Linked DNA regions of Homo sapiens. The protein of the gene in region 1 purifies or fractionates together with the protein of each later gene. This does not show direct contact. Each region holds a gene or a part of one and is shown in the gene's direction. Other genes may lie near its edges.

Region 1 (8,448 bases):
TACACCCAGCTAATTTTTTTTTTTGTATTTTTAGTAGAGACCGGGTTCCACCATGTTGGATAGGTTGGTCTCGAACTCCTGACCTCAGGTGATCTGCCCGCCTTGGCCTCCCAAAGTGCTGAGATTACAGGTATGAGCCACTGTGCCCCGCCAAACATGTTTATTGGCCATATATATATATATATATATATATATATTTTTTTTTTTTTTTTTGAGATGGAGTCTCATTCTGTTGCCAGGCTGGAGTGCCATGGCACAACCTTGGCTCACTGCAACCTCTGCCTCCTGGGTTCAAGCAATTCTCCTGCCTCATCCTCCCGAGTACCTGGGACTGCAGGCGCGCACCACCACACCCAGCTAATTTTTGTATTTTTAGTAGAGACGGGGTTACACCATGTTGGCCAGGCTGGTCTCAATCTCTTGACGTTGTGATCCGCCTGCCTCCACCTCCCAAAGTTCTGGGATTACAGTTGTGAGCCACCGCACCAAGCCTTTTTTTTTTTTTTTTTTTTTTAGATGGAATCTCACTCTGTTATCCAGGCTGGAGGGCAGTTGCATGATCTCAGCTCACTGCAACCTCCACCTCCCGGTTTTAAGTGATTCTTGTGCCTTAGCCTCCCGAGTAGCTGGAACTACAGACATGCGCCATGATGTCCATCTAATTTTCATATATATATATATGTATTTTTTTTTTAACAGACATGGGGGTTTCACCATGTTGGCCAGGCTGGTCTCGAACTTCTGACCTCAGGTGATCCACCCAGCTCGGCCACCCAAAGTACTGGGATTACAGGTGTGAGCCACACCTGGTTTCCTTATTATTTTCACTTGTCAAATGTGTATGTACGTATATTTGTGTGTGTATGTTTTTTAATGTTGTACATACATACTTTTTTTTTTTCTTTTTCACTCTGTTGTCCAGGCTGGAGTGCAGTGGTGTGATCTCAGCTTACTGCAACCTCTGCCTCCCAGGTTCAAGCAATTCTCCTGTCTCAGCCTCCAGAGTAGCTGGGATTACAGGTGCACGCCACCATGCCTGGCTAGTTTTTATATTTTTAGTAGAGGTGCGGTTTCAACATATTGGTCAGGCTGGTCTCGAACTCCTGACCTCAGGTGATCCACCCACCTCAGCCTCCCAAAGTGCTTGGATTACAGGTGTGAGCCACCATGCCCAGCTGAAACATACATTTTTATGTTGTAGGTTTTCTTCAAAGGACTCCAAATTCTACAACAGCAGGAATCATATACCCAGCACTTACCATAGTCTGGCTTATATGGGCAGGCAATTATTTATGGATGAATGAATTTCTATTGCCACAGTGCAGGTTTTAATTCTTTTCAACAAAGATTATAAGCTCCTTAAAAGCAGAGATTGTCTAATTAAAGTTTGATCTTCCACAGCTCAGTAGGCAGTGTCTTGGACACAGAAGGTAGGTGTTCTATAAATATTTATTCTATGAATCTTGAATTACTAACCTAGACTCTCTTTCTCTTCTAATTCACATAGCATATGTGATTGATTAAAGTTCACAACTCATTGTTGGTAATGTCATATAAATTATTAGGCTTGTTGTCCAGTTTTGAAAAATCTCCAATAAGCTATTTATTTATTTAGACACAGGATCTCTTTCTGTTGCCCAGGCTGGAGTGCAGTAGTGAGACCACAGCTTGCTGCATCCTATATCCTGATCCTCTAGCCTCAGCCTCCTGAATAGCTGGGACTACAGACACATATCACCACACCCAGCTAATTAAAAAAACTTTTTTTGTAGAGGTAAGGTCTCACCATCTTGCCCTGGCTGGTCTCAAACTTCTGGCCTTAATAGATCCTCCCACCTGGGCCTCCCAAAGTTCTGCAATTACCTGGGAGAGCCACCACATCCGGCTTCCAAAAGATTATTTAATATATGACTTAAAAAGAGTTCAGGACCCATCAGATTTCTTTAAACTAATGACACTCTTTAGTTTGTTGTGGATGTCCTCATCAAGTTCTGAGAAAAAAATATAAATTTCTTTTTTGGGCAGGGCCCCACAGCTCATGACTGTTATTGCAGCACTTTGGGAGGCCTAGGTGGGAGGATTGCTTGAACCCAGGAGTTCAAGACCAGCCTGGACACATGGTGAGACCTGTCTCTGCAAACAAAACAAAATCCTACAGAAAACCCGGACATGGTCGTGCAGGCCTGTAGTCCCAGCTACTTGGGAGGTGGGAGGATCGCTGGAGCGCAGTAGTTGGAGGTTACGGTGAGCTATGATCATGCAACTCCACTCCAGCCTGGGTGACAGAGTGAAACCCTGTCTCTAAGAAAAAAACAACACTTTTTTGGCTAGGTATTGATGAATGCTAAATCTTTACAATTTTACACATCCAATAATTGGAATAATTTCCCACAGATTAGCTTCAGGTTCCCAAAATTTCAACCCTGCTTCTCTTCTACTATTCACATAGTTTTTGATGCTAGAACATTGGACACATTAAAATAACTTCAAGAGTTCTGGCCCTGCACCTTTGTTTTGCAATGCTGGGTGGATCAGCACAACGGGCAATTGGAGTATTCTTGGAAGCCACTGGGACAGCTGGCAATATCTTAACTACACATGGAAGTGACTGTGGGTTATAAAAATATATCCCAGTAAATTCAAACCAAATGTATTCCTAACTCAACTTCCCTTTAGCTAAATTTCAAAAATGTTTGCTTGCCACTCCAACACTAGACAAAGGGAAACATGGTGGAGGGAAGTCACTAAGGACTAAAGATTGCAGTTTAAAATACATTACTTTTATAAATTTTACAGAAGCATAGGACAGTGTGAACATATTACTAGGGACCCTTCCAGGGACTTGGAAAGGGCTAGTGTAAATGAGGGCACCTGAAGCTGAAGCCTCCTTAGCTTCACAGTAAATCTGCTTCAGAGTCTACGGCCATTTTAATTACTGAGTAAACTGTCAACTTTCAGAGTCAGCTCTATGTAGGGCTAGTGAATATGTTGATTACAGCTCCATTTGAGGAAGTTTTTTTTTTTTTTTTTGAGATGGAGTCTGACTCTGTCCCCAGGCTGGAGTGCAATGGTGTGATCTCAGCTCACTGCAACCTCTGCCTCCTGGGTCCAAATGATTCTCATGCCTCCGCCTCCTGAGTAGCTGGGATTACAGGTGTTTGCCACCATGCCCAGCTAATTTTTGCATTTTTAGTAGAGACAGGGTTTCACCATGTTGGCCAGGATGGTCTTGATCTCCTGACCTTGTGATCCGTCTGCCTTGGCCTCGCAAAGTGCAGGGATTACAGGTGTGAGCCACCGCACGCCCTGCCTCTTTGGTCTTATAATTACTTTATACTCCTAAAAAGTATTGAGGACTCCAAAAAGCTTTTATGTGGATCATATTTATCAACATTTACTATATTAGGAATTAAAACAAACATATAAAATATTTATTCATTTAAAACAACAATAATAAACCTGTTACATGTTAACATAACATAAATAACTTTTTTTTTGAGAGAGGGTCTGGCCATGTTGCCCAGGCTGATTTCGAACTCCTGGGCTCAGGTGATCTTCCCGCCTCGGCCTCCCAAAGTGCTGGGATTACAGGTGTGAGCCACTTCATTTGGCCTAATAACATATTTTTAATGAAAAATAACTATTTTCCAAAGCAAAATAATTTAGTGAGAAGAGTGGCATTATTTTACATTTCTGCAAATCTCTTCAGTGTCTGGGCTAATAGAAGATTCTCATATCTGTGTCTGCGTTCCATCTGTATCACAGGCATGTAGTCTCTGGAAGACCTCACTGTATTGTTATTAGAGTGAAAAAGGCAGTAAGTCTTAGTATGAAAATAAAGTCTTAGTATGAAAATAATTTTGACCTTATGGATTCCCTGACTACGCTTTCAGAACCATTGATTTAGACATCATTATATCTACTTTTTAGTTGCCTAGTGCTCCCAGAGTACCCTCTCTCTCTTTCTGTAGCTATATAATCACTCACCTCCTGCGTAAGTCAAATGTTAATTATTGCTATACTTTTTAGCATACATGGAAAACTTTAGAAACCACAATTCTTAATGAATAACAAGTCTTAGCAACTCATTTTTCTCTTTAACTGACAAGGAAAAAATTATCTTCTTCATTGTATTCTCCCTCATAGTACAGGGAGATATAAAGAAACCCTTGGTTTGGGGTTACTTTATAACTAAGGCAAATGTTAGACTAAGATCAAACGCAACATTGGGTGCCTTATATAAATTAATGTTACTGGAGAATCTAATATTTACTAAGTCATTTCTGTGTGTGAGGCATGTGTTAAGTGCTTTACATACATTATCTCATTTTATTCTCACAAGAATCTTACAAGATGGGTAGTACCGTCATTTCTATTTTACAGATGAGTAAACGGATACGGAGAGGTTGTTAATGCCTAGTGTTACACACAGGATTGAGGCAGGATTTGAATTGAGATAACCTGACCCTGGAGCTCTTAGTCTATTATCTACTGATAAGGTATAAAGGTAGGAGATAGAGCACGATTAGTATAAAATGAGTGCTGAGATGTGAGAGGAACAAGACAGCTGAGATACCAAGACTGAATCTCTATTATTTTCCACCCTAGAAAAATTCTGCTTTATTTTCTACACTCCCACGTTCCTCTTCTCATTTTTAAGATACTTTATTGCCGGCGGCCTCGTCGCTTAGGCCTGACGCGGACCCTGAAATCAAGGAGGCAAACTGAACAGGAGCGGGGGAAACCCCGTGGTAACCACGGTAACGGTGGCGGGGCGAGAACCCTGCGCAGGCGCGTTACATCCCACTCCCGCTTACCCACACCACGGCGGCCGGTCCCAGCCACTCCTCTCGGCCTCAGACTCCACGGGCCGGCCACGGGTGGGGGCAGCAGGGAGGCACGGGCTTGGCGCCTGCGCAGTCGCCGGGGCGCTGGTGTGATCGAGCTCACGTAGCGAGGGCTGCAGTCGCCTCCTCCCTGGCGCTGCCATCGCGGCCTAGAGGTTATAAAAGGGCTAACGGGCTCCCTCTGCTGCCCAGTCGCGCCGCCAGCGGGCTGAGGGTAGGAAGTAGCCGCTCCGAGTGGAGGCGACTGGGGGCTGAAGAGCGCGCCGCCCTCTCGTCCCACTTTCCAGGTGAGACGCTCCCTCGATCCCGGAGACTGAGGCCACTGGGCAGCCGTGGACCTTCTCGGACGGCTGCGGCGATCCATTCCTTCCCGCTGTGGTGGTACTTCTGGGGCGGGGGTTCCCCAGGTTACCACAGCAGCCTCGGTTCCTTCCCCTCGGGAGACTCGGCCCCTCTCCCTGCGCCACGCGACTCCCGGCGCCCGCGCTCCTTCGTGCCCCCCTTCCCACCTCTGTCCCTAGTGCGCCTCGGACCGCTGGGGCTGCTGCAGCCTCAGTCCCCGCCCTAGGGACCAGGACTTTCTTGAATTTTCCTTCCCGGGGAGGAATCACTCTGTTGCTTTTTTTTTTTTCCAAGTTCCCCTGCACCTGGTCCTCCCTAACGAGGCTAAGGGGAACGCAAGCGCGGGGCGTGGGCTTTTGGCCGCCACAGCCGCAGATGGTTCGCATGTGGCGGTGGAGAGCGGATTTTAAGGCTTGGAGCTGGATCCGCAGCGCGCCAGGCATTTTTGCCCTATCGAAAGTCGCCGGGAGCTGGGGGGACCTCCCCAGAAAGTTCCGGCTGAACTCATCTGTTGCGCGCAGCGGTGCAGCATTAGCTGCCAGACGTAGCCCGGGGCGCCGAGCTTTCTGCTCGTAGCGCCGAGGAAGTAGGCTCTCAGGTCACCTCGTCGTCAGGGAAGCTTCCTTCCCTCTTCTTCCCCATAACTTTTTTTAAAAAGAGACAAGAGCTCTTCTCTCAATCTCTGTCTCTCTGTCTCTCTCTGCCGAGAATTTGCAGCTTTTAAAAGTCCACATCAGTCCAACAAATTCCATGGTTGTGTGAGGATTTTGAGTTGGATTACATGGCTGGCCCCCGGATGTATGTTTCAATGGGGAGGAAGGATGGTATGATAACTGTGAGACTCTTTCTCCTAAATAATCGACTCTGTTACATACAAATTCAATGTTTAGACACTAACATCTTACGCGTTCCGGATAGAGTGAAGACTCTTGGAATTTTGCACTGTTTTCTTTAAGAAAGGGTTGAAGAAGCAGCTAGATCCTCTTTTAGGAATTGATCTAAAAGGCCAAAGAGACTTGCCAATTTCCACTTAACTGTTTCTGGTTTCTCCGAGAGCAGTGGTTCTCGGACTTTCGCTTGGAATGCACTCGGAGGGGATGAAATAGCCACTACGTGAAGGGGGGAGGGGCAAAGACGTGGCAGCAGCGTTCTTTCATCAATTTTTTACTCTTTTTTTTTTTTTTTTTTAAAGTTCTGGTTAGAAACGTATTTCCCCTTTTAGGTTTAGACGTAGCTTATGAATGAGGCTAGTCTTTTCCTAAAATAATCAGATGAAGAATTCAGTCTGCATAGCAGGAACGTTGGAAGTTAATTTAAAAAACATTTTAAAGGGATTTTTAGAATCAAGTTTCTATGGAGAAAATCGGTATCCTAAGACGATATATTCAAGAAGCTGAAAGTGAACAACCTCAACTATATTTTGTCTTCATGTGAAATGTGAATACACACCCCGTGATTTTTTTTTTTTTTTTTTTTTTTTTTTAGCTTGTGAGCGTAATTTAAGAATCTGAAATGTGAACTTCAAATTTTACTTTTTTCTTTATGTGGGAAAAGAGACTTTATCACTTACCTTTAATAAAATTCATAGTCAGTTTTGGTTTTGGGACATTGTGCCTTAAGTCCTGCCATTGTTTTTGATAGCTGATGACAAATGTTTCTTAGATTTACATAGACTAACTAGGAAAAGGACTATTTCTGTCTCTTTTAAATGGGTAGTGCTGTTTTTATTGACATTTTGAAATGAGTTTTATTTTGAAGTACTGAAAATCAGGACTTTGGTAGGCGGATAATTACATTGGCCATTTTGTGTTTTGGTAACTTAGATGGTAAAACAGTTGAAAAATGTGTACAACTTTTAATTATGCCAAAAAAATTAGTGCAAAAGACTATTGAAAAAAAGTTTTATATTGCCTTGTAGTCTGGGTTGTTGCAGATGAATCTTGGCTTTTTGGCAAGGAGCTGTTAACCTTTTCTATTAGTGCAGAATAAGTTGTATACTGAAAAGCAGTGTTTTTCAGTAGGGCAATTAAGTTCAAACGGCATTTATTCCAGAGATGCAGCAAGAGCTGGGACAGCCATAAAGCTTGTGAGCCTTCCTTTCTGTGGAAGGAATGCTTTATTTTACTTAGCAACCAGTTATCAACTAGGATATAATTATTGCTCTTGAATTGACCTGTGAGATACATAATAGTGGTTCTCAAACTATTTTAAGGTCATGAAATCCTTTGAGAATCTGATGAAAGGTGTGGTCCTATGTCAGAAAATGCAAATACACCCTACATGGAATTTTGTATGTCACTTCCTGCCCCCCCACTCAAGTCCATTCATGAACTTTATTATAAGAACCCCTAAAAAGTAAGAGATGTGAAGTTACTCTCTAAGGGTATCTAGGTGTCTTGAGGCAGTATTGAATGTTTCTGAAAATCGAGCTGGGCATGTAAGTCTGACTGGACTTGTATATGTGGGTGACCCTAATACATTTTTGCCAAAAGGGTTTTAACAAAAGTTAATAGGTTGTTAGAATTGTTGAAATGCTAAATTGTCTAGTCTGTGAAAGTATATCACATTGCATGCCCTCTCCTATATATGGTAACTTAACTTTGGTTTTCCATTCTGAAAGTGGAACAGGCTTGGAAGTAAACAAAAATAAATTGCATAGGCTCTTGGCATTAAACTTTATTGCTTTTCTTGCAGTGAGATCTTGAATCTTGTAATTAAACCATAATGTGTTGTGTGTGTATAAATATATGAATATATATAAAAAATCCAAATAAAATGAGTATGTGTGTGTGTGTGTGTGTGTATATATATATATATATATATATATATATATATATTTTTTTTTTTTTTTTTTTTTTTTTTTTTTTTGAGATGGAGTTTCACTCTGCCACCCAGGCTGGAGTGCAGTGGTGCAATCTCGGCCCACTGCAAGCTCCACCTCCCGGGTTCACGCCATTCTCCTGCCTAAGCCTCCCGAGTAGCTGGGACTACAGCCGCCCACCATCACGCCCAGCTAATTTTTTGTATTTTTAGTAGAGACGGGGTTACACCGTGTTAACCAGGATGGTCTCGATCTCTTTACCTCGTGATCTGCCCGCCTTGGCCTCCCAAAGTGCTGGGATTACAGGTGTGATCACGCCACCGTGCCCGGCCAAAGCTTTGTGTTTCTATTCAAGAAAATTTATTTGTATAAATTGAAGCTGTCCTGTCATTAGGACAGCTTCAGTTTCTCTAGTTGAATAAGTATTGTACCTAAAGA
Region 2 (8,062 bases), on another chromosome or scaffold:
CTCTACTAAAGATACAAAAATTGGCTGGGCATGGTGACATGAACCTGTAATCCCAGCTACTGGGGAGGCTGAGGCAGGAGAATTGTTTGAACCTGACAGGGGGAGGTTGTAGTGAGCCAAGATCATGCCACTGCACTCCAGCCTGGGTGACAGAGTGAGTCTCCGTCTCAATAAATAAGTAAATACATACATACATATGTACATAAATAAAAGTCATGAAGCTGGAGGAAATGACTTGGGAGACAGGGTGGACAGAAAAGGTAGGAGAGCCCAGGCAAAAGTCATTTCTTGCTTTCAGATGTTATGGTGGAGTAAAATGAATTCCTATTAAAATGACCTGCTTAAGACCGTCATGTTTATTTTATTAAAATGTGATTTGTATTTCTCTGCTCAAAATAGTCAGCTATTGTTTCTCTTCTGTCCAAAATCCAACATATCTCTCTTCACCTCATTTCTAGGTCATCCATAGGCATGATCAGTTCTTAGCTTAAGAACTTTCCATGTACTTGATGTTGTAAGAGAGGACCTGGCAAATACAGAAATAAAACGATTTTGTTCTCACCTTTAAAAAGAGTATGCGAAGTTTACTGACAGCACAGACATGAATAGGAAATAATACAATTTTCCAGAAACAACTAGCAATAGAAAATTTATTTTTTCTTTTTTGATGAGCTAAACTTAGGACTAGGTAAAGTTTATTGTTAAAAGATGTCAGGATGTAGAGGAAGATGGCTAATTGGGGTTTAATTTATCATGGAAGTACATAAAGAGGAAGGAAAGCTCTACACACGTACAATTACTTTGCTTGTTCAAAGAAGAAAAGTCCTAAACAACATGTTACCTGCTTGTCAATAACTTGTCAAATGCTTTGACTTTTTTTTTTTTTTGAGACGGAGTCTTGCTCTGTCGCCCAGGCTGGAGTGCAATGATGGGATCTTGGCTCACTGCAACCTCCTCCTCCTGGGTTCAAGCGATTCTTCTGCCTCAGCCTCCTGAGTAGTTGGAATCACAGGTGCGTGCCACAATGCCCAGCTAATTTTTGTGTTTTTAGTAGAAACAATGTTTCACTATGTTGAGCAGGCTGGTCTTGAACTCCTGACCTCAGGTGATCCGCCTGCCTCGGCCTCCCAAAGTGCTGGGATTACAGGCGTGAGCCACCGTGCCTGGCTAGATGCTTTGACATTTGAAACCTCAATTTAGCTTTGTTATTCTTCCCCAATATTGGTACAAATGTCATTTTAATGTATCAATTTACTGCTGAGGAAACTTAAGAACATTGAGAATTTAAGAACATTGAAATTTATGTGACAGCAAAGAGCACAGTTGGGCATAAACATCATATGCATGCCAAACACATTTATGTGTACTTGCTATATATACTGGATAGTGAGCAAGGCATTTTTATTTGATCTCCAATTCTTGTCATCATTTAACTCATCATCATCTACTAAACACTCTCAGTACTTCTCAGAGATAAGTATATTAAAACTTATCTTTTAATTTTTTTTGCCAGAAACCAACAGACCACAAAACAACAATAAAATGGAAAACAAATAGAATATATGGAGCACTGTAGTTTGATAAGGTCATAATATAAGAAATGGAAGGAGGAATATATAATATCTTCAAACTACCTACCTTTGATGTCTCCCCTGGTGAGCAGGGAGAGAAAGATACCTTTAACTAAGAAAGCATATTCAGGCAAGAAACTCAGCTTAGAAGCAAGGAGGAAGAGGTCTTTTCAGAGTAGTTATTAGTGATTTATGTGCTTCTTTGCTTGTGGAAATCTTCATTTTCAAAGCTTAGCTCAAATGCTACCTCCACCACAAAAGCTATTCTAGTATTGTTCATCATTTCTTCAGTTATGTTTAAGCAATGCCTTGAAAGGCAGCTGAAAACAGAAAAAGATCCCTTAACAAAAGGCAATTGGTTTTCTCATGAAACCAATTAAATAAATAGAACGATCAATAGACAGGACTGTGAGTGATTGCCTTACGATACTCATAAACAGTCTATAAGACTTCATTCTATTACTTTCAACAGTGACCAAGAAGATTTACTCAGCGTTAAGCACTATACTAGGAATTGAAGTGATGGCTATGGGATGCCCTGTTTGGAGGTGGACTTGGTCTAGCGAAGAGCCTGAGGCAAACAGAAATATAGTCAAATAATTACTATACAGTGTGATAGGCACATGGCATAGAAGCAGCATGGTGTCTAGAAGGAGTGAGTTGCTCTGTCCCACTCACCCCCCAAATACATCTGACCTCATCTGCATTCTCTCTCACTCACTATACTTTAGCTACATTTTGAGTTTCTTGAACATGCCAAGTATGCTTCTACCTCAGGGCCTTTGCACTTCTTATTCCTCTGTTTGATAGTCTGTCACCCCGAAATCCACGGGGCTCACCTCCTGTCTCCATTCAAGTCTCTTGTATCACTTCATCAGAGTAGCTTTCCCTGACCACTCCATATAAAATTGCACCCCATCACTTCATTTTATATTGCTTACTCTTTTCACAATTCTTGTCATCATGACATATCATACGTTCATATGTTTATTATCTGACTCTCTTATTAGAATCAAAGCTCCACAAAAGAAAGAACTTTGTTTTATTCACTGTTGAATCTACATAGCTGGAAGAGTTCCTGGCAAAACAAATGGGAAGAGATAAAATGGGATTCAGGAAAGATTTCACAAAGGTGATTATACCCCCAGAGAGTTTAGAAGGATGCAAGAGATTATCATAAAAAGATAAGGGAGCTGGGAATAGCTGGCAGAAGTGTGTTCAAAGGTAAGAAAGATTAAAACCACATGGTTTGTTTAAATAATGTGAGATATTGGTTGGGCGTAAACCCTTCATTTGTGCTTCTATTACAACACATTCACCTCTTCTCTTGTAGGAGAGTTGTTTACTGCCCCTCTGTCTTTCTCAATAACTTCAGAGTTCTTTAAGGGGTGGGACTGTTTCACTCATGTCTTCATTTTCCAAGTTCTTAAACAGAGCAGATATTCTGTAATTGCTAAATAAATAAATGATAAAACAATATTTATTCATCAAGGAGCAAGAAAACTCATTTAGTTGTTCAATCAAAATGGATTTCTCTCTGTTGACAAGCGAATGCCCTGTTTGTAAACTTTATAAATGAAAGAGACCTCAGAGATCATCTAACTTGGCCTTTCCATTTTATAGATGAGAAAACTGAAGCATAGAAAGGTTGATTGCCTGACTATACAACCTGCTAGGTATAATGAAGAACTGAGGCCAGGCCTGGTGGCTCATACATGTAATCCCAGCACTTTAGGAGGCCTAGGTGGAAGGATTGCTAGAGACCACGAGTTCCAGACCAGCCTAGGCAACATGGTGAGACATTGTCTCTACAAAAAATAAAAAATTAGCCAGGTGTGGTGGCACCTGCTTGTCTGTAGTCCCAGGTACTCAGGAGGCTGAAGTGGGAGGACTGTTTGAGTCTGGGAGGTAGAGACTGCAGTGAACAGTGACCCTGCCACTGCATTTCAGCCTGGGTTACAGAGTAAGACTGTTTTTTAAACAAAACAAAACAAAACAAAACAAAACAAAACAAAACAAAAAAACAGGCCGGGCGTGGTGGCTCATGCCTGTAAGCCCAGCACTTTGGGACACCAAGGTGGGCAGATCACCTGAGGTCAGGAGTTCAAAACCAGCCTGGCCAAAATGGTGAAACCCCCTCTCTACTATAAATACAAAAATTGGCTGGGCATGGTGGTGCGTGCCTGTAATCCCAGCTACTTGGGAGGCTGAGGCAGAAGAATCGCTTGAGCCCAGGAGGTGGAGGTTGCAGTGAGCAGAGATCGCACCACTGTACTCCAGCTGGGCAACAGAGTGAGACTCCGCCTCAAATAAATAAACAAACAAACAAAAAACCTAGACAAACCTAGAGCTCCAGTTTGAACCATGGTATGTCATCTTTTCACTGGAAGATGTGCTTTCAGAAGCGGCCTGAACATTTGGTTTACCTATTAAAATAAAAACTGTACATACTTTATGATCTATCTTTGAGAAACAGACAAATCTGCAAGGAGCCGTGTGGATCTTCATTGTCATTTTTTGTTGTAGTTAAAAGTGTAAAGTCAAAAGCAATCTGGGTGTACATCAATGGAGAAATAGCCATATTCACTCTGTGATAGCCATACTATGCAATTTTATGAAGCACTTAAAATAGATATAGTTTGATTCATACTAAAATGAAAAAGAGCTCCAAGACACGGATGCTAAAAAAAAAGAAAAAAAAGGAAGTCGAAGGATGATACTATACTGTACTGTACTATTTAAGACTTGTCAATCTCAGGTTCTCCCACCAAAACAGCACAACACATGAAGTAAGTGTATAGGAAATTTCGGAATGATGAACTCCAAACAGGATATGCATCTGTAGCAAGGGCTACCTCCGGAGAGAAGGGTAGGGGAATGAGGCGGTCTTTGACCTTGACAGTAATTTATGGTTTTTAACAAGGAGAGTGCATTCTTCATCTATTAGTTTTGCTTTTGTTGGCTGTGAAAATTAATTTTTTGAGAAATAGTACTGATTGTGATTTCTTCTCTATTCAGTGAGGAAAGGGAGTGACAGGTAATGATTCTGTATCAAGGCTGATTAAAGAATAAAAGAAGGCCTTTCTGAAGATTAAAAAACAAATAAAAAGTTGAGAAGAAAGAGCACGAAGAGTAGAAGGGAACAATGGTGTACTCGCCAGCAATGGCAATACGGGTTATTAAAAAGAAGGGTGGGGGCGGGGAACCCTGGCCGACTCAGGACGCCACGGGAGGAAGCCACGCAAAATAGCAAACCGGGATCCTAGAGGGGCGGGGCCCACCTCAGCGCGCAGGCGCAACCAGGCCCAGGTGGCCGCCGCGGAAGCGAAGCCACCTATACGCGCCGCGCCGCTTGGGTCTCCTGCGCATGCGCAGACGGACCTGCGCTGGAGGCTTCATCTTTGCCGCCGCTGCCGTCGCCTTCCTGGGATTGGAGTCTCGAGCTTTCTTCGTTCGTTCGTCGGCGGGTTCGCGCCCTTCTCGCGCCTCGGGGCTGCGAGGCTGGGGAAGGGGTTGGAGGGGGCTGTTGATCGCCGCGTTTAAGTTGCGCTCGGGGCGGCCATGTCGGCCGGCGAGGTCGAGCGCCTAGTGTCGGAGCTGAGCGGCGGGACCGGAGGGGATGAGGAGGAAGAGTGGCTCTATGGCGGTACGAAACTTCCTGTCTCTGTCTCTCGGGTTCTCTCAGGCCTCCCCTCTTGGCCCTCAAACGGCCGGCGTCCCTGGCCTCTCGCGCCGCCGCTTCGGGCCTCTGGTTGGGAGTCCTGTCCGGCCTGACTTAGGCCGAGCGCGGCGTGCGCGTGCCCCCAGTCCCCGCGGCGGTCTCCCGCCTGGCCCACGCCCACCATGCGCATCCACCCCTGTGGCGGCCGGGCCGGGCTGGGGGGCTGTGACCGGTCCTGGCCCCCGGCTTCGCTGTGCTTTCCCCGAGGCGTCTCGATCGCCTAGCTGCTGCGCTCTTTACCCTTGTTTTTTTCTGTCGATTCTGAGGTGGTGGTTTTTGGTGTCTGTTTTTGCCCTGTGGCCTTAGGGTGCCCTTCCTGTCCCTTCTTTCAGAAACAGTCATTCTGTAATAATAGCTAAATAAAGTTAATGCTGTACAACTAACGTCTTGTTTCTTGATGGTCAGTTTGTATGGAATGCACCTGCAAGGGTACCTCCTTGTCTGAAAGTCGTGCTTTAAAAATAATTAATTAAGAGAGAGAGAGAGAAAGATGGCCCATAAAGAAAACTCTGAATGTCTCCTGTATTAAGGTGAAGTTATTCTTTTTTAAGAGACTACCGTTTAACCTACATCATGGAGGTATCTCATGACCCTTCGGCTTATAGTTTTCAGTGTCATCTCATGTATTTGTTTTTCTCAAAATAAATTTAATGCATCATGTACTTCTCTCTAGAAGGGTACTTGTTTGACATCTGGTTTTTAACTTTAAGTCACAATCCCTTCTTGCTTGTTAACACCAGATTTGAAAGTTAATGTTTGTTCCTTGCCTAAAACATATATTCTTGATTGTCTTTAGAATAGAATAGTAAAAGTGCACTTTGGGCACCATGCAGGTCCTTGATGATGTGACTTTGATAAACTTGTAAAAAAAAATCGTTTGGTGGCAAGATTTAGCATTAGTTACTACTCTTTGAAATGTGAATGTGTAGGATTTCTTTTACAAAGATCTGGAAATCTTCATTACCTCTTAAATTTAAGCTTATTTTTATAGCAGTAAAGTCTGATTTTTTTTTCCATAAAATAAGTATCTTGTTAAGTAATTATAAGGTGATCTAACTTTGGATGTGCTTATAGGCCCATGGGACGTGCATGTGCACAGTGATTTGGCAAAGGACCTAGGTTAGTGCTTGTGATGATCACTTCAGATTTTCATAATACTAGTTTCTTTAAGAGTGGTTTCTTTATTTTGTTTGCTTATTTATTTATTTGTTTATTTTACTTGGTAGATGAAAATGAAGTTGAAAGGCCAGAAGAAGAAAATGCCAGGTTAGTGAAATTTTCTGTTGATGCCTATTACACAGGTTGTGTGAAACAATGGTTCTGTCAGTTGTCAAAATTATTTTCTTACAATCATTGGCTTCATTACAACACTGACTTACAACATTTTGGAGGACATTGAATCCTTTAAGGATTATTCCAGTTTCAGGACCTAATCTTACGCCAATTCTATTTGTTGGTAGTTTAAAGGACAAAGTTTTTGAACTTAGGATTGGACTGATTTTACACTGTTAAGTAACTTGTTACTCTTAAGTGAATTCAGTAGTGAAGTATACAGTATAATCGTTAAGCTACTGATAAAAATATTTTAACTTAATTGAAAATGTTTTTAAGTAAATCAGGAACACTCCAAACTACTGCTTTTCCAGTTTATTAACATTTTTGATGATATAATGGCAGTTTGGTTGTAATTTCAATGCTATGTATTGTTTGCATTCAAAATGTAATTAGCTGATTTGTTATAAGGTTGATTTCTTTGTTAGATTGTAAGAAAGATGTAAGTGTTCATTTATAGAACATATACAGGGAGTCAGAATTTTACCCCAGATTTCAAAAAGCAAGCCATGTAAAGAAGTACATGGAGATGTCGGCTTTACCCTGACCACATGCATTAGTGTCTGTAATGGAGGGAGAGGTAGTTAGAAGATTTTAAGGAATATTTGGGTTTAAAAAGTGGAAGATATACAACTTCATACCGAGTAAGCTGCAATCGAAAAGATAAAACAGGTGTTAGTGAGGATATGGGGAAATAAAACCCTCATACACTTCTGGTGGGATTGTAAAATGGTGCAGCTGCTTTGAAGAACAGCCTGGCCATTTTCTCAAATGGTGAAACATGGAGTTACCATGTGAGTCCTCCACCTTAGAGGAATGAAAACATATTCAGACAAAAACTTGTACGTGAATATTCATAGCAGCATTATTCTTAATAGAAAGTGGAAAAAGAAAACCTCGCAGCTGCATCAACTGATGAATGGATAGATTAAATGTGTTATATCCATACAGCGGAATATTATTTGGCAAGGACAATAAAATGAAGTACTGGTAGATGTTACAACACGGATGAACCTTACAAATGTGGAAGCTAAAGATGTCAGTCCGTAGAGACAGATTAGTGGTTACTAAGAGTTGGGTGAGTGATTGCTAATGTATACAAAGTTCCTTTTGGGAGTGATGCATACATTCTGGAATTAGATAGTTGTGATGGTTGGACTATGTGACCATATTAAAACTCAGTTGTCCTGTTTGAATGGGTAGATTGTATAATATGTGAATTGCATCTCAAAGCTGTTACAACAAAAAATGGATAGAGGGAAAAAGTGAGAAATGGAAGTAGAAATAGCTTAGGAGGAGCTGAAACTACAGTTCAGCTTCCTTACCCAAAAAATCCCCTATAGTCTTTTCACTCATTGGTATATTATCTGAAATGTTATTTCATTTTAAAATTTATATATTCAACTCAGTTCCTAATTCTGATCTCAACCACAAAGTT
Region 3 (5,417 bases), on another chromosome or scaffold:
AAAATGCTGGAATTACAGATGTGAGCCCTTGCCCCATGAAACGGTTTAACAAAGTAAGGTGGCCTGCTAGTTTAGAAGGCTTTTATGCTAACATTTCTGTTCCTTCCTTTCTTTCCCCAAAATTCTACACTGACCTTTTTTTTTTTTTTTTTTTTTTTTTGAGACGGAGTCTCACTCTGTCGCCCAGGCTGGAGTGCAGTGGCACAATCTCAGCTCACTGCAACCTCCACCTCTCGGGTTCAAGCGATTCTCCTGCCTCAACCTCCCGAGCAAGTGGGACTATAGGCGCATGCCCACCACACCCAGCTAATTTTTGTATTTTTAGTAGGGACAGGGTTTCACCATATTGGCCAGGCTGGTCACGAACTCCTGACCTCATGAGCCACCTGCCTTGGTCTCCCAAAGTGCTGGGATTAGAGGTGTGAACCCCCGTGCCCGGCCCACTAAAGCAGCAGTTTAGTGGCTTTAAAAAAAAATGATAGACTTTAAATGATGACTTTGTTTATAGAAGTTGTCATACATCTTCAAAACAGTATTCTCTGTGTTGTCATTTTGATTTTAAAGAGCATTCCTCATACAAAACCAGCCAACAGTGCAGGCACAGTGATTACCATGGCCGTTGAAAAGGCCAGAGATTTTACTGGTTCCCACCCCTGGAGCCTCTGGTTCTCTTAACTCATTTTGCAGAGGGCTCAAGTCTGCCAGCGTTGAAGTCTGAGTATCTTAATCATTTTTAGATCCTTCACCCCTTTGGCAGTCAGGTAAGGCTGTGGGGCGGGGGCAGGGGACACACATATATGCAGTTTTACCTTTGATTTCAAGGAGGTTAGACAACCCCCTCCCCACAGGCTATCCTGGGACCCCCGGTTAAACAGCCCTATTGTAGAAGGTGGGTGTTGCTGACCAGGGACTTGACTACAATAGTTCTGTTGGCGGCCCTGTTCCCTGGGGCTCTACAAGAATAGAAAACCCGTGTGGCCCTGGACTGGCCCCGCTCTCCCACGTGCTGCAGTCGGGGTGCAGAATGGAAGTTCACATTGCTGTGGCTGGTCCTCAGGAGCCGTGGGGAGGGCAGTCTGCGGGAGGCTGCGGCCCTTCCACTGGACTTTCACTCTGGCCTTCTTCCCTGTCCTCCTGACACCACTCCTCCCGCCTCCCCTCCCTCTCCCTCACCTCCCACAAACACACCAGAACTATTCAACTCTGAGGAACAGGAGTATGAGACAGCTTCCATTCGGCCAGGAATGGGAGGTTCCCATGTCCTTAAACTTCAAAGCCAATCGTACCCTTAAAAATGCAGCTATTTCCCCAGTTGTTTAAACACTTAGGATTAGATAGGAGTAGATGTATTGGTTTCTTCAGAGAAGCCAACAGTGGATCACATGAAAATGGAACCTTTTTTCCTATCCTTTTGAATACATTTCTGTGTTTAAAATATAATTTTTTTGGCTGGGTGTGGTGACCCACACCTGTAATCCCAGCACTTTGGGAAGCCAAGGCAGGTGGATCACTTGAGGTTAGGGGTTCGAGACCAGCCTGGCCAACATGGCAAAACCCCATCCAAAATACCCCTACTAAAAATACAAAAATGAGCCAGGTGTGGTGGTGGGTGCTTGTAATCCCAACTACTCAGGAGGCTGAGGGAGGAGAATTGCTTAAACCAGGAGGCAGAGGTTGCAGTGGGCCGAGATCGGGACACTGCACTCCAGCCTGGGCAACAAGCAAGACTCCGTCTCAAAATAAATAAATAAAATAAAATATAATCTTTTCCTTTGTGCTAGGGTCCCACCTAAGTTTATTCACACATATGATGAGCAGTAACTGCCTGAAGATGCAAGGAGTTGATTCCCACTCCCCACTTCCCCCGCTTAATACAGTGTTGTCAGTGCTTAACTGTCCTAGGCTGACCATGGTCCATGGGTTGTTTAGAGTCACTGCCTGCCTTTCTTACCTGCATTCAGCCTGCTGGTGGACTGCTGTTTCCTAACACCTCTGTACCAATGGGGACGATGTTGAAATTAACCATCAAAACTGTTTCTCTCGATGACAGAGGCAATGTCTTAGTGCCTTCTTTATCCCCAGCTACTAGCACAGAAGGAATCTGCCACACAGAAGATGCTCAATAAATACCAAGTTTAATTAAAGTAGGAGTGCACAGCTAGTGGGCTTGGGAGCCATTTAAACCTAGATACCTGGATTTGAATGCCGGCTCAGCTGTTTACTAGCTGTGAGGCTTTAAGCAAATCACTTAACTTCTGTGTCTTGTTTTCTTCACATGTAAAAGGGGATCCTTACTAAAATTATAGGTTAAGATAATGTATATAAACCACCTAGCATGATGCCTGCTGAATAGATCATTCTTGAATAAAGCTGTGTATTTTCCCTGTTTTATAAACTTAATAAGCTGTATCAAGGCAAATAAGAAGCTTGTCTCAAAAGTAAATACAGGCTGGGCATGGTGACTCCTGCCTGTAATCCCAACACTTTGGGAGGCCAAGGCAGGTGGATCACTTGAGGCTAGGAGTTCAAGACCAGCCTGGCCAACATGGTGAAACCCTGACTCTACTAAAAATACAAAAATTAGCTGGCTGTGGTGGTGCACACCTGTAATCCCAGCTACTAGGGAGGCTGAGGCAGGAGAATCACTTGAATCCGGGAGGCGGAGGTTGTAGTGAGCCAAGATTGTGCCACTGCGCTCCAGCCTGGGCCACAGAGCAAGACTCCATCTCAAAAAAAAAAAGAAAAAAAGTAAATACAGTATTCTGCTTTAGAACTAGGACCTATCTTCAGTTTTATTTTTTCCTCAAATATATAAAGCCGGGCATTTTCACTAATCCTGCATTTCTGCTTATTTTCAGGGACATATTTGGAGAAGACTGTGTAAGTGTAAAGGATGACTCTATTCTTAGCGTCACAGTGGACGGGAAAACTGCCAACCTTAACTTGGAGACACGGGTATGTAGCTGCTCTTTCCTACGTTTCAAGACATTTGGGAAATAAAGTGAAGGCATAAATAATCTGTGCTCTCACACTCAACAGTCTACTGTTGCATATTGGCATTTGCTTCCAGTGTTTCCAACATTTTTTTCACATTGTTCTTTTTATATTATTATGGTTGAAGTTTTCCGTGTTTTTCCGGGTTACTGCATAGTACAAGGTTCGCGTGTATGCCACTCCATTGCTGTCCTCTTCCATAATACAGCTTAGTTCACCTCATCCCTTCTCTAGTTTGGCATCTAGTTGACTCTCCATTTTTTAAAGAAGCCGCTCTTCTGTTTGCACCAGCAAGATCCAAGTGGATTTTCCAAACAGTTCAAAACCAGCCCGGGCAACACAGTTAAACCCCATCTCTACTAAAAAATACAAAAAAAATTAGCCGGGAATGGCGGCAGCTGCCTGTAGTCCCAGCTACTCAGGAGGCTGAGGCAGGAGAATTGCTTGAAACAGGGAGGCAGAGGTTGCAGTGAGCCAAGATCACATTACTGCACTCCAGCCTGGATGATAGAGCGAGACTCTGTCTCCAAAAAAAAAAAAAAAAAGAACTAGAGGCCAGGCGTGGTGGTTCACGCCTGTAATCCCAACACTTTGGGAGGTCAAGGTGGGTGGATCATCTGAGGTCAAGAGTTTGAGACCAGCCTGGCCAACATGATGAAACCCCATCTCTACTAAAAATACAAAAATTACCCAGGCGTGGTGGTGTGCCTGTAATCCCAGCTACTTGGGAGGCTAAGGCAGGAGAACCCAGGAATCACCTTAACCCAAGAGACAGAGGTTGCAGTGAGCTGAGATCACATCACTGCACTCCAGCCTGGGCGACAGAGCGAGATTCTGTCTCAAAAAAAAAAAAAAAAAGAAGCAACTAGAAGATTATTAGTGAGTTTCAGTCAAATTCAGTACCAAATGTTGAGTAGATAGCCACATCCATTCCTTGCCAAGTAATTTGTGTGGCATAGATGAACTTCCCTGGAGTATCATTTACTAGATCAAACTGTGGGCTTTGATGTAAATGTAGTTTACTAGACTTTCCCCAGTCTTTCACCCCAGCCTCAAGTCATCACTAATTAGGACCGTGCTGCTGTCAGGAAGCACTGCACGCCCACAAGTGTGTAGGGCGGCCGTTCTGTTTCATGGTAATCAGTCCCACCATGACCTCTGCACACACAGATGATTGTTCTTTTTTTTAGTTTGAGACCCGGTCTCGCAGTGCCGCCCAGGCTGGAGTGCAGTGGTGCAGTCACAGCTCACTGCAGCCTCAACCTTCCCGGCTCAGTGATCCTCCCACCTCAGACTCTTATCTGGGACCACAGGCACACGCCACCACAGCTGGCTAATTTTTTATGAGATGATGGTTTTTTTAAAGAGTATTCATTTATCTTCTATATAATCATTATAGACTTAATTCTAACAGTCTTGTTTGTGCCTCACTTTCAGACTGTAGAATGTGAAGAGGGAAGTGAAGACGATGAATCCCTCCGAGAAATGGTGGAGCTGGCTGCACAGAGACTGTACGAGGCCCTGACGCCAGTTCACTGAGACTGTGCCTGTATATGAACTTTGAAAAAATACTTGACTCTACTTTTGTTACCTAAAATAAAATGCATTCGTTTCTCTGGGGGAGCCTGTTTACTTTTAATGTCAAATGGCCTTTATTTCAACAGCCTGAATACTGCTAAATTGCTAATTAATTTGTCCATTATTCTAGAACTAACTACTAGATCAACTGCCCATTATTTTAGAATTTTGGATTCTTCTTCCAGGCATGTATGTGCAGCTCCCATTGAAACCATCAAGATCTGCCGATAGCAACCGCTGCTGGTTACCCTCTCCTCTGGGGTAACCAATTTGAGTTAATAATAAGGATTCTAAGTTGCACTTGAATCTTTTCTGTCTTCATCTCCACTGCTGCTGTTCGAGTCCAAGTCTACTCTCCCCTCTGAATTCCTGCAACCACCTCCATCTCCTCCCCTATAGCTGATTCCTGGAACAGACCTGGCCTCAAGCCTCTGCTGCTTGAAGGCCTTAATGAAGTCCTTGTGATAAAGATGAAGTCCAGGCACCTTTGCTTGCTCTAGCAGGGGCTCTCAATCTGGGCTACCCGTGGGAATCACGTGGGGTGCATCACAAGTGCACCTGTGCCCAAGTCCTGCCACCAGGAGGTGAGTTAGTCCGGCTGGAATGAGGGCCCTAGGTTGGATCTTAGTTGTAAAGCTCCCCCAGGTGATCCAAGCGAGCTTGGGACGAGCAACCTAAAGAAAGTCATGCTCTACGCCCATCGCCCCGCCCCAGGGAGCGGGGTCGGCCTCTGCGCCGGCGCCCCTGGCCCTTCTGTTACTCATCTACAGCTCCGTGATTTCAAGGCATCCTTCCCACCCGTTCGTTTTTAGCTCGGCTGCCGAACTTCATTGCACAGTTGAGGT

The links.
Region 2: the proteins of P4HA1 (region 1) and FIP1L1 purify together in Homo sapiens (affinity purification with mass spectrometry; 2 studies listed by BioGRID and IntAct, with this or other methods). This does not show direct contact.
Region 3: the proteins of P4HA1 (region 1) and CPSF3 purify together in Homo sapiens (affinity purification with mass spectrometry; 2 studies listed by BioGRID and IntAct, with this or other methods). This does not show direct contact.

Annotation. Positions count from the first base shown.
Region 1 is NC_000010.11:73,093,452-73,101,899, reverse strand, and holds the start of P4HA1 (prolyl 4-hydroxylase subunit alpha-1 isoform 2 precursor), read left to right. Parts: upstream 1-5,033; 5' UTR 5,034-5,134; intron 5,135-8,448. UniProt on the Homo sapiens protein: Catalyzes the post-translational formation of 4-hydroxyproline in -Xaa-Pro-Gly- sequences in collagens and other proteins.
Region 2 is NC_000004.12:53,372,707-53,380,768, forward strand, and holds the start of FIP1L1 (pre-mRNA 3'-end-processing factor FIP1), read left to right. Parts: upstream 1-4,934; 5' UTR 4,935-5,132; coding exon 5,133-5,217; intron 5,218-6,366; coding exon 6,367-6,411; intron 6,412-6,518; coding exon 6,519-6,558; intron 6,559-8,062.
Region 3 is NC_000002.12:9,468,485-9,473,901, forward strand, and holds the end of CPSF3 (cleavage and polyadenylation specificity factor subunit 3), read left to right. Parts: intron 1-2,858; coding exon 2,859-2,955; intron 2,956-4,431; coding exon 4,432-4,533; 3' UTR 4,534-4,617; downstream 4,618-5,417. UniProt on the Homo sapiens protein: Component of the cleavage and polyadenylation specificity factor (CPSF) complex that plays a key role in pre-mRNA 3'-end formation, recognizing the AAUAAA signal sequence and interacting with poly(A) polymerase and other factors to bring about cleavage and poly(A) addition.